Linked DNA regions of Homo sapiens. The protein of the gene in region 1 interacts with the protein of each later gene in a biochemical or structural test. Each region holds a gene or a part of one and is shown in the gene's direction. Other genes may lie near its edges. The genes, in order: USP9X, PSD4 and ALDH1A3.

Evidence for each region.
Region 2: the proteins of USP9X (region 1) and PSD4 form a complex in vitro, tested with the Homo sapiens proteins (one study listed by BioGRID).
Region 3: the proteins of USP9X (region 1) and ALDH1A3 form a complex in vitro, tested with the Homo sapiens proteins (one study listed by BioGRID).

The regions. Positions count from the first base shown.
Region 1 is NC_000023.11:41,231,791-41,235,444, forward strand, and holds part of USP9X (ubiquitin carboxyl-terminal hydrolase 9X), read left to right. Parts: intron 1-596; coding exon 597-734; 3' UTR 735-3,654.
Region 2 is NC_000002.12:113,187,359-113,191,012, forward strand, and holds part of PSD4 (PH and SEC7 domain-containing protein 4), read left to right. Parts: intron 1-3,654. UniProt on the Homo sapiens protein: Guanine nucleotide exchange factor for ARF6 and ARL14/ARF7. Through ARL14 activation, controls the movement of MHC class II-containing vesicles along the actin cytoskeleton in dendritic cells. Involved in membrane recycling.
Region 3 is NC_000015.10:100,886,196-100,889,849, forward strand, and holds part of ALDH1A3 (retinaldehyde dehydrogenase 3), read left to right. Parts: intron 1-1,376; coding exon 1,377-1,517; intron 1,518-3,654. UniProt on the Homo sapiens protein: Catalyzes the NAD-dependent oxidation of aldehyde substrates, such as all-trans-retinal and all-trans-13,14-dihydroretinal, to their corresponding carboxylic acids, all-trans-retinoate and all-trans-13,14-dihydroretinoate, respectively.

The DNA.
Region 1 (3,654 bases):
GAAAAATGAGAGCACTGTAGGGTTCAGACATTTTAAAAGGTTAAGGAACCAAATCCACAAGGAAGGTTAACTTCCTTTGACCCTGAGAAAGCTCTTATGTTAATCATGCCTGGTTACTTTATCATCTTGAACATTGTTCTGTTTTTAATCAGCATTATTGTGAGTTCAGGGTTACTGCTCCTATATATCTTACATCATGGTTAGTCAATCGGATTTAGCATGTGGAAGAGTCAATAGATGCTCATAGATCATTCTCTGAAAATTTTTTACCAAGAGCAACAGTGGGTTAATCCTTTATTTGCCAGACTTGAGTCTAAATAATTTTTGGCACTAAAAATCACTTTGGCCAAAGATTTATGTGGACCTACACAATCACTGCTCTTATTCAGGGTTTTGGGGTTTGCATTTACACTACGTTTTTCAAGCCTTTTTTTGTTTTTGTTTTTGTTTTTGTTTTGCACTATAGTAGTCCAAGGGTATTTACAGAGTAAGTCCCAAGAATAAGAGTATACATTTCCAGAGACTTCAGACCATGATTTTGAAGTTGTTTTACTATGTGAAAAGTTTTAACATACAGATCTTTTCTCCTTTCCCAGAATAACCATGTGCATGGACAGCCATATACAGGCCCAGCAGCACATCACATGAACAACCCTCAGAGAACTGGCCAACGAGCACAAGAAAATTATGAAGGCAGTGAAGAAGTATCCCCACCTCAAACCAAGGATCAATGAAATGCACATAATTAACTGGTTCCATCAAGACTGTGCACCCAGGCCTTACAGTCCAACCTTTTTCTGTGTCTGGCTAATATTTAAAACTAGAAAAACTATTCCTAATCAACATGGAGTGGAGAGTTTATTCACTGTCTTATCTGCAGAAATTTGCTGTCAATATATAACCCGCCTGCAGTGGAAAGTGTATAGTGTTTTGTAATAAATGGCCTGATGCTAATGTGTAAATGGCAAAGGTGTATATAGTATATTAATGTTGACTGTTAATTCTTAAGCAAGAAACTTTTTTCTTGATGAGACTCACAGATCTACACAAACTACAAAAGTTAATTTTCTTGTTACACCCACTGCACTCTGCAACCAGTGTTGCCTGCCTCATGGCAGTTGGATCAGCTCCTTTACAAAAAAGAAAAAAAAAAAACCAACAGCAACAAAACAGAGCCCATCCATGTCAGCCACACCAATAGTTTCATGTTAATTCTTTGCCACTGGAGTCAATTTTGCTATGAGCAATGTAAGGCTGGTAACCTTTAAATTATTTGGTTGATGTGGAAAATTGGTGATGTAACACTGTTTCTAGATTTTTTTCATTGCCTTTTTATTCTGATATTAGGTTAATCACTTTGAAGCTATAGTTATGCTGTAACATTTAGCATGGCTTCACACCAAGTTAGTGTAGCCAATGAGGAAAAAGTTACCATAATGACAGCAGTTGTCCGAGAAGTGACAGCTGTATTACTCAGAGCTTTTACTTCTTACACCTAGAATATTAAAATATAAAACAAGGGGAGAAATGTGACAGTCTATTTTCAGTTGCACATATGTTCCTTATATATAATGTTTGACAGTTCAATCTCTGGGTGGAATAAAGAACACTTACGTATCAGTAATGGGAATTTTTAAAGATTTAAAACAAATATGCAAAAATTTGCTATGCCAAGATGCTGGAGCATAATATAAGACTGTATTTGGTGTGCTTGTTTTGTTTCTTTGGTAGAGTTTATTAGGTGAATCTTCTAAAACTTTCCTTCTGTTGGATCCCAGTGACGTGGAAGTCATCAGAACCCCACGGTACTTGGAGTACCTCTCTGCACCAAGATAGCTGGCTGATTTTCTGCTCAGTCACAATTTTACTTGAAAGCAAGAATTGTCCTAGCTCCTTTTCCATTATTCCAAAACGTTTAACGTTCAAAGCAGGGTCTCATTAAAAAAGAAACTACTGGTTGATATAATTGAGATATTACAATTTCAGAATAAACATTTGATTAAAAATAAGGAAATCCTCAGTTCATACTGTATTTAAAAGAGAATTGGTAACTTGAATGTGTGTAATTTTTTGGAACCTGTCTAAAAACCAAATACCCCTGCAAACAGATACAGCCCACCCTATTCTATTTAAATATTTTGCTGTTTTATTTTATAGAAATTATTTTGCTGAATTCACAAATAGAATTTGATTTAAGAAGAACTTTTTGTCCTGTGGTGTGTTTTTGGTTTTTTTTTTGGTTACTTTTTTTGTCCTTTTTTTTTTTTTTTAAAAGAGGACTGCATATTAAAATTCATTCTGTGCATAGCATGCCTAGGCATGACACTGATTCAGGATTTCAGTCACATCAAGTTTTTGTGCACAGAAAGATTTGACCTTTGGCCCTCTACTGAAGATTTTGAGAAATCAGGATGTTGACACTGTAAAAGTTTCCTAACATAATCTTGTACTTTTTGTATGTTTTTTATATACATGTATATTTAATGAGCACAAGCTTGGTTGTATTTTTTACAATTCAGTTAATAGGGAAATGTTTTGTCAAAAGGCTACACTTGGAACTGAACAAAGCAGAAACAAAATTGAGCATTGCATTATTTTGTGATTAAAAGGGGCAGGTATTTAAGATAAAGCTTTGGGTATCTTATTTGTAGTACTGTATAGTCAACCTGTGCTTCTAGGTGTTCCTGTAGGACATTTTGACACCGATACTTTGAGTGAAAGTCACACACGGTGTTTGCAATTCCAACTGATTTTTGTTTTGTTTTTATTTTTTTGTTGTTTTCTTCTTTGAGATGGAGTCTTGCTCTGTCACCCAGGCTGGAGTGCAGTGGCACAATCTTGGCTCACTGCAACGTCGCCTCCTGGGTTCAAGCGATTCTTCCGCCTCAGCCTCCCGAGTAGCTGGGATTAGAGGTGCCCACCACCACGCCCAGCTAATTTTTGTATTTTTGTAGAGACAGGGTTTCACCACGTTGGCCAGGCTGGTCTTGAACTCCTGACCTCAGGTGATCTGGCCGCCTCGGCCTCCCAAAGTGCTGGGATTGCAGGTGTGAGCCACCGCGCCTGGCCCCAGTTGATAGTTTTTTTAATTTAAAAGTTCCTCAATTCCAAGCTCTTTAAACGAGTGAAATAGGTTAACTTTATTTGGATGAGTTAGGTGTACCATCTCACCATCTGAGAGGAGATTTATATATTTCCTGCTGCTCCTTAACAAAATATGTAATGTACTTAAAAACTTTAACGACTTCCTAGTTGAGAGAAAACTTGACATATAAAAGGCTGTGAATTTTTCTGCTTGGAGGAAGAGCCCAACCTTGGTTGCTTTGAAGTTACAAGCCCCCTTGTGCCAGGTGAGGGGCTTGTGAGTCATTTTTGTCTCCATTTGAGGAAGAGTGGTATTCGTTGTGACTAGGAGCAAGGGAAAGTGGAGTTATTTTTGTTTGTGCAAATTATTTTCTATATTTAACTCAAGCATTAATGTATAACCAGAAATTTAAAGATGCATGTTGTTGCAAGAGCAACATAATGGTGATTTTGAGGTCTTTTTCTGAACACAAGTGGCACATTTTAAATTTCAAGTCTTCAAAGTGCCTAAGGATTATTTAGTTCTCCCTCAACTGATTTTTTGAGCCATATATTTCCTATTTTAAATGT
Region 2 (3,654 bases), on another chromosome or scaffold:
CCCAGCTCTGGCTCTAGCCTCCACTCCTAGATCTGGAGCCTAGAAGGCTGTAAGGGGGCTGAGAACAGGAAGCTAGGTGGGCTCTAGTAATGGCAGCAGCTGGGGTAGTTCAGGAGGTGGTCCTCAGCCTCTCCCTTCCCCCACCTAGCAGCCTGGATGACAAGGAGACTGAGTGGTGACCTATGACCCAGTGTGAACAGGTCCGGGTGACCCCCAGCCGACTCAGAACCTCCCAGTCCAGCACTAAGACTCTCAGATGTCACTCAATCCAATCTAAACCTGACTCTTCTGCTTCCCCCACAACGTCACAATCAGGTATTCTAGTTATTTAAGCATTCATTATCCAAGTGACACAGGAAGTTGAACCAGTAAGCAGGAGTCATCATAATATGAAAACGTTCCCTGATAAACAGACGAATAACATTAGGTTTCACTTAAGCACCCTCTCCACCTAACACAGACGGGTCAGGGTCTTTGCTGGTGACTTCTCACTGCCTCTTGAGGCTCATGAACACTACATAATGCAGGAGAAGCACAACAGAAGCTAACAGAAAAGTGTAAGTACAAATCCTGTCAAAAAACATGATTTCATAAGGTCTGTGAAAGTGATGTTGAAAGACCTCACAAGTCACGTGGAAAACCACTGACAAATCGGGAACCAAAAGAGATTGTCCAGTGAACAATGGAAGAGGAGAAAATAAAAATAAAGAATAAATTGTCACATCTAAAGAGAATTACTCGAAAAATCAACTGACGAAGCCCTAAAATATGCTTTTAAAAATGACCTAGTCAATTAGTGTTGTTACTAAAATAATACTTAGATGAGGGAGCACTTTGAAAAAAAAAAGTATGCAAATATAAATTATCATAAAATTGTACCCTTTATTTTTTTGTTTTGTTTTGGGACAGAGTTTTGCTCTTGCTGCCCAGGCTGAAGTGCAATGTTGCGATCTTGGCTCACTGCAACCTCTGCCTCCCGGGTTCAAGTGACTTTCCTGCCTTAGCCTTCCGAGTAGCTGGGATTACAGGCGTGTGCCACCATGCCTGGCTAATTTTTGTACTTTTAGTAGAGAGGGGGCTTCACCATGTTGTCCAGGCTGGTCTCGAACTCTTGATCAGACTTGTCTTGAACTCTCGAATCCACTCGCCTCAGTCTGTCAAAGTGCTGGGATTATAGGCCTGAGCCGCTGTGCCTGACCTCACTTTATTATTTTATTTTATTTTATTTATTTATTTTTTTGAGATGGAGTCTCACTCTGTGGCCCAGGCTGGAATGCACTGGCGTGATCTCGGCTCACTGCAAACTCTGCCTCCCAAGTTCAGGCCATTCTCCTGCCTCAGCCTCCCTAGTAGCTGGGACTACAGGCGCCCGCCACTGCGCCCGGCTAATTTTTTGTATTTTTAGTAGAGACGGGGTTTCCCCGTGGTCTTGATCTCCTGACCTCGTGATCTGCCCGCCTTGGCCTCCTAAAGTGCTGGGATTATAGGCGTGAGCCACCACGCCCTGCCTATTTTATCTTTTTAACTTGAATTTTCTTTTCTTTCTTTTTTATAATTTTTATTTCCATAGGTTATTGGGGAACAAGCAGTGTTTGGTTGCATGAATAAGTTCTTGAATGGTGATTTGTGAGGTTTTGGTGCACCCATCACCAGAGCAGTATACACTGCACCCTATTTGTAGTCTTTTATCCTTTAACCGCCTTTCACCCTTTACCCCTGAGTCTCCAAAGTCCACTGTGTCATTCTTATGCCTTTGCATCCTCATAGCTTAGTTCCCACTTATGAGTGAGAACATAGGATGTTTGCGTTTCCATTCCTGAGTTACTTCACTTAGAATAATAGTTTCCAATCTCATCCAGGTTGCTGTGAGTGCCATTAATTCATTCCTTTTTATGGCTAAGTAGTATTGAATCATATATATATATATTCAATAATATATATGCATATTCAATCATATATGTGATTCAATTATATATAATTGAATATATAATAGTATATATATATATATACACACACACATACACACCACAGTTTCTTTATGCACTCATTGATTGATCGGCATGTGGGTTGGTTCCATGCTTTTGTGATTGCAAATTGTGCTGCTATAAGCATAAGCATGTGTATGCAAGTATATTTTTCTTATAATGACTTATTTTCCTCTGGGTAGATACCCAGTAGTGGGATTGCTGGATCAAATGGCAGTTCTACTTTTAGTTCTTTAAGGAATCTCCACACTGTTTTCCATAGTGATTGTATGAGTTTATATTCCCACCAGCAGTGTAGAAGCGTTCCCTATTGACCTCATCCATGCCAACGTCTATTTTTTGATTTTTTGATTATGGACATTCTTGCAGGAGTCAGGTGTTATTGCAGTGTGGTTTTGATTTGCATTTCCCTCATCATTAGTGATGTTGAGCATTTTTTCATATATTTGTTGGCCATTTGTATATCTTCTTTTGAGAATTGTCTATTCATGTCCTTAGCCCACTTCTTGATGGGATTATTTGTTTTTTTCTTGTTGATTTGTTTGAGTTCATTGTAGATTCTGGATATTAGTCCTTTGTCAGATGTATAGATTGTGGAGATTTTTTCCCACTCTGTGGGTTTTCTATTTACTCTGCTGACTGTTCCTTTTGTCATGCAAAAGCTCTTCAGTTTAATTAAGTCCTGGCAATTTATCTTTGTTTTTATTGCATTTGCTTTTGGTTCTTGGTCATGAAATCCTTACCTAAGCCAATGTCTAGAAGGGTTTTTCCAATGTTATCTTCTAGAATTTTTATAGTTCCTGGTCTTAGATTTAAGTCCTTAATACATCTCGAGTTGTTTTTTGTGTAAGGTGAGAGATGAGGATCCAGTGTCATTCTCCTTCTTGTGGTTAGCCAATTATCCCAACACCATTTGTTGAAAAAGTGTGTCCTCCTTGTGGCTAGCCAATTATCCCAACACCATTTTTTGAAAAGTGTGTCCTTTCCCCACTTTATGTTTTTGTTTGCTTTGTTGAAGATCAGTTGGCTGTAAATTGTACACTTTAAATGAGTGAATTGGGCGGTATGTGAATTCTATTTCAAAACAGCTGTTATTATTATTATTTTTTTGAGACAGGATCTCACACTGTTGCCCAGCCTGGAGTGTGAGGTACAATCATGAATCACTGAAGCCTCAGCCTCCCAGGCTCAAGTGATCTTCCCACTTCAGCCTCCCAAGTAACTGGGACCACAGGCGTGTATCACTACACCCAGCTAATTTTTACTTATTTTTATTTTTTATGGAGATGTGGTCTCACCATGTTGCCCAGGCAGACCACAAGGCTGGTCTCCAACTCTTGAGCTCAAGCAATCCTCCCACCTCGGCCTCCCAAAGTGCTGGGATTATAGGCATGAGCCACTGCACCCAGCCTGTTACTGTTTTTAATGGCCTTTATGATCTTACTGTGAAAATCAAGGATGAATGCAAGATGTCTTATCCAGCCAGAAAACTTGTGCTGGGAAAATTAAATTTTAGGCATTGTGTTTACTATAAGATTTAAATAAACTTATTTGTACATTTACCAAGATAAAGCTCCAAGTAAACCTTTTCATTATTTACTATGAAAGTATGTTCTCATTTTAGTTAGATTTAGTTACTTCTATTTTGGGTTGGGTGAACTTTAATTTT
Region 3 (3,654 bases), on another chromosome or scaffold:
TGGCCCCACCTATACAGACCCCCCTCTGTGTGGCACCTCATGACAGTTAGGCTCTGCTAACAAAGAAAGTGGCACAGAGGAGCTCATAGAAAAATGTGAGGGCATTGGGGGGAAGCCATGACATGGAATGGGGTTTCCACTAGGAGACTCCCAAGTGCCCCGTACAGGTGCTAGGAGGAGAACGAGACCCTTGCCCTGGGCCTTGATTTCTCCCTTGGTCTGAGTGACTGTTCTGAGCCAGAGGCCACCACACCCTCTGCAGCTGGAAAGGTCCTGGCCTCCACCCCAGAGCCTGGGAGAAGAAATTCAGTGTCCCACATCTCCCCTGCCAAGCTTCTGCTCACCCCCAAGCCAGCTCTGGACACACAGAGACTCGGTAGAGTCACTCCTGACTGGTGTCCCACATCCACTCCCTGCTGTACCTTCCTAGAAAGAGAGAGGCATGGAGGGGCCTTCGAGATGAATGTGGCCCATTTTCCTGAGAAAAAGAGACAGTGACACTACTCTAAATGGCCCTCACTTCTTTCCTTTTAGAAAGAAGGTTCCGTTGTGATTATTCTATCAGTGCACAAAAGATCCAGTTCTGCTCCCATGGGGTGGGTGAGGCTGAAGGGAGAAAAACGGCCTTCATGCTCCTCCCTGTCTGCGAACTGTTCCACGATGGTCAGTTCTGCAATCCAGAAAGGAAGGAATTTCCCCATTCTCACTCTTGGACCACAAGTTCCCAGCTGGGATCAAATGCCAGGCAGACACTTCCCACCTGATCTGTGAACAGCAGGCTCGTGTGCGTTCACACTGAGGCAGCCAGTGGAAAGTCCTTCCGTACTTGGGTCCCTGAGAAAAATACTCTTTAGGAAATATTTTTAAATGCTTTTTATAATCAGAAACAAACATTGGTATTTGGCCACTGTAGAAATATTAAGATGTAAAGAAGAAAAAAAATCACTTGAACGCTCCCAGCCATTCAAGTGATTGAAAAACATGCTGCTGCTTGCAGCCTGTCTGCCAGCGGGACAATCTGCTGTTCTCTATAACTGATGGCCGTGGTCCCAAACTGCAGTCACGTCAAAAGATGACACCCAAACTGCAGTCACCTCAAAAGATGACACCCAAACTGCAGTCACGTCAAAAGATGACACCCAAACTGCAGTCACCTCAAAAGATGACACCCAAACTGCAGTCACCTCAAAAGATGACACCGAAACTGCAGTCACTTCAAAAGATGACACCCAAACTGCAGTCACGTCAAAAGATGACACCCAAACTGCAGTCACCTCAAAAGATGACACCCAAACTTCAGTCACGTCAAAAGATGACACCCAAACTGCAGTCACGTCAAAAGATGACAGTCTCTCTCTGTTGTTCTGGTCGCTCAGCCCGACGTGGACAAGGCTGTGGAGGCTGCACAGGTTGCCTTCCAGAGGGGCTCGCCATGGCGCCGGCTGGATGCCCTGAGTCGTGGGCGGCTGCTGCACCAGCTGGCTGACCTGGTGGAGAGGGACCGCGCCACCTTGGCCGTGAGTACATGCACTTGGGGGCCGGTGGGGGATGAGCCAGCCTCACTGAGGGTCCTGTCCACCATGGGGTATGGGAAAAAAGATCACGGTCCTGGTTTTGTGTGGTCGTGGGTCTGTTCCATCCTCTGAGACACGGCTCTCTGGCAATACTTGCAGGTGTTAATGCCTCTAGACTGAATCCCTTTCATTTTGAAGTCAGACTTTTGTCCTCTGCAGCTCAGCTTCTTGACCAAGTTGTTGTCTATAGGCAGTTGAGCTACATCAGTGGTCTCAGACTTGGGGCACTCACAGATTGGTGACCATGAGCTGGGCCATATCCTGGTACCACCTGTGTGTTTATGTACTTAACTTTTTTCTTTTTTGTATAAACTTCCTTTTATTTATTTTATTTTATTTATTTTTTTGAGACAGAGTCTCCCTCTGTCACCCAGGCTGGAGTGCAGTGGCGCGATCTCGGCTCACTGCAGCCTCTGCCTCCCAGGTTAAAATGATTCTCTTGCCTCAGCCTCCTGAGTAGCTGGGACTACAGGTGCCTGCCACCATGCCCGGCTAATTTTTATATTTGTAACAGAGACAGGGTTTCATCATGTTGGCCAGGTCTTGAACTCCTGGTCTCGAACTCCTGGCCTCAGGTGATCTACCGGCCTTGGCCTCCCAAAGTGCTGGGATTACAGATGTGAGCCACTGCACCCAGCCTTAACTCCCTTTTAAACTTAAGTTTAATCTCATCCTAAGAAACAATATTCATGAAATCACAGGTTTGATGTGCTAATTTTATTTTTCTAATACTTACCAAAATAAATGCCACCACTTAACATAGAAAAAATTGTTCCCATGTGACCTAAAATCATTCCTCAGTCACCCCTGAACTGGCTAGTAGCGAGCATATGTGGAGCGGTGGTGAGGGCAGGATAGCCTGGTTATAGGAAACCTCAGAATAGGAAAGACCTGGGTTCAAATCCCCACTCTGCCACTTACTAGCTGTGTGACTTTGGACAAGTTGTGAAACCTCTCTGAGATTTATTTCTTCATGTAAAATGTCACCGATAATGATAACTCAGTGGTGTAAGAATGATCTATTTAAGATTCTAGGCAGAGTCCCTGGCAGGCAGTAAGCACTAAATAGATGACAGCTATCATTAATAATAGCAGTTATCATAATGAGGTCATGTGAAGACCCATTTTCTAACCTCACCTACATGCACTGCTGGCCAGTAATTTCTAGATACCCTAGGTGGGGATATTGATGGAGCATACCCCATGAGGCTGAGCTGCCAAGGCATTCATCAGTTGTAAGTCCATTTTTTAGCAGGATCCTCAGACCCTCCTCTGGTCATGAGGGAGTGATCAGAGGACATCTCAGGGCCACGTTGGGCCATGAGGTCCTTTGCATCCTGTCCTTGCCCATCTCAGCCTCTTGTTTTTAAAAGTTGTTCCAAACCTTGAGGCCCGGTTGTAGGGGAGGAGATCTCCTTTCTGGCCTTTGATTTGGAAAAATGGTTTTTCTGATGTCGGGAACAAGCAGTAGGGTAGCCACTGTTTAAAGGAGGGTGTCAGCCAGGACACGGAAATTGCTGTTGCCCCTGAATGTGTTTCTCAGGGTGGAGGAACTCTCAGGCCGTACTCTTGGGTGCATTTCCCTAAGGGTGCATCCACACAGAAACTCGAGCTCCCCTTCCTTCCTTCCCAGTCAGCCCGGCCAGTCCACATGTTCCCCGGGTGAGAGTAGCTCCCTCCCAGGGTAAGCGCTTCTCTCTGAGGAGCCTCTGGTTTCTTCCTGCAACGTAAGCCAGCGTCAACCCTCAAGCTGCCAAACTGGCTTTTTCAAAAACATTTCTGTTTTCACCCGGCATGAGCTCATCGGTCGGCAATGTCCGTGTGGACTAATAGCAGGCTAGAGAGGATGTGCCCTGGGCACCCCCCGCCCTGAACCCTGTCCTTAAGTGTCAGTATCATCTTAGGAGCAGAGGCTACAAAGCCACCTTCATCTTCAGGCTGCCCCATTGTCCTGGCACGACTGTGTTTTGATAGCAGACAGCTTTGGAGGATCTCAGAATGCAAACCCAGCAAATCACTTCTGCCACTGGCACCTCGCAGCCCACGAGAAATAAGATCCAGCTCTTTGCCACAACATGAA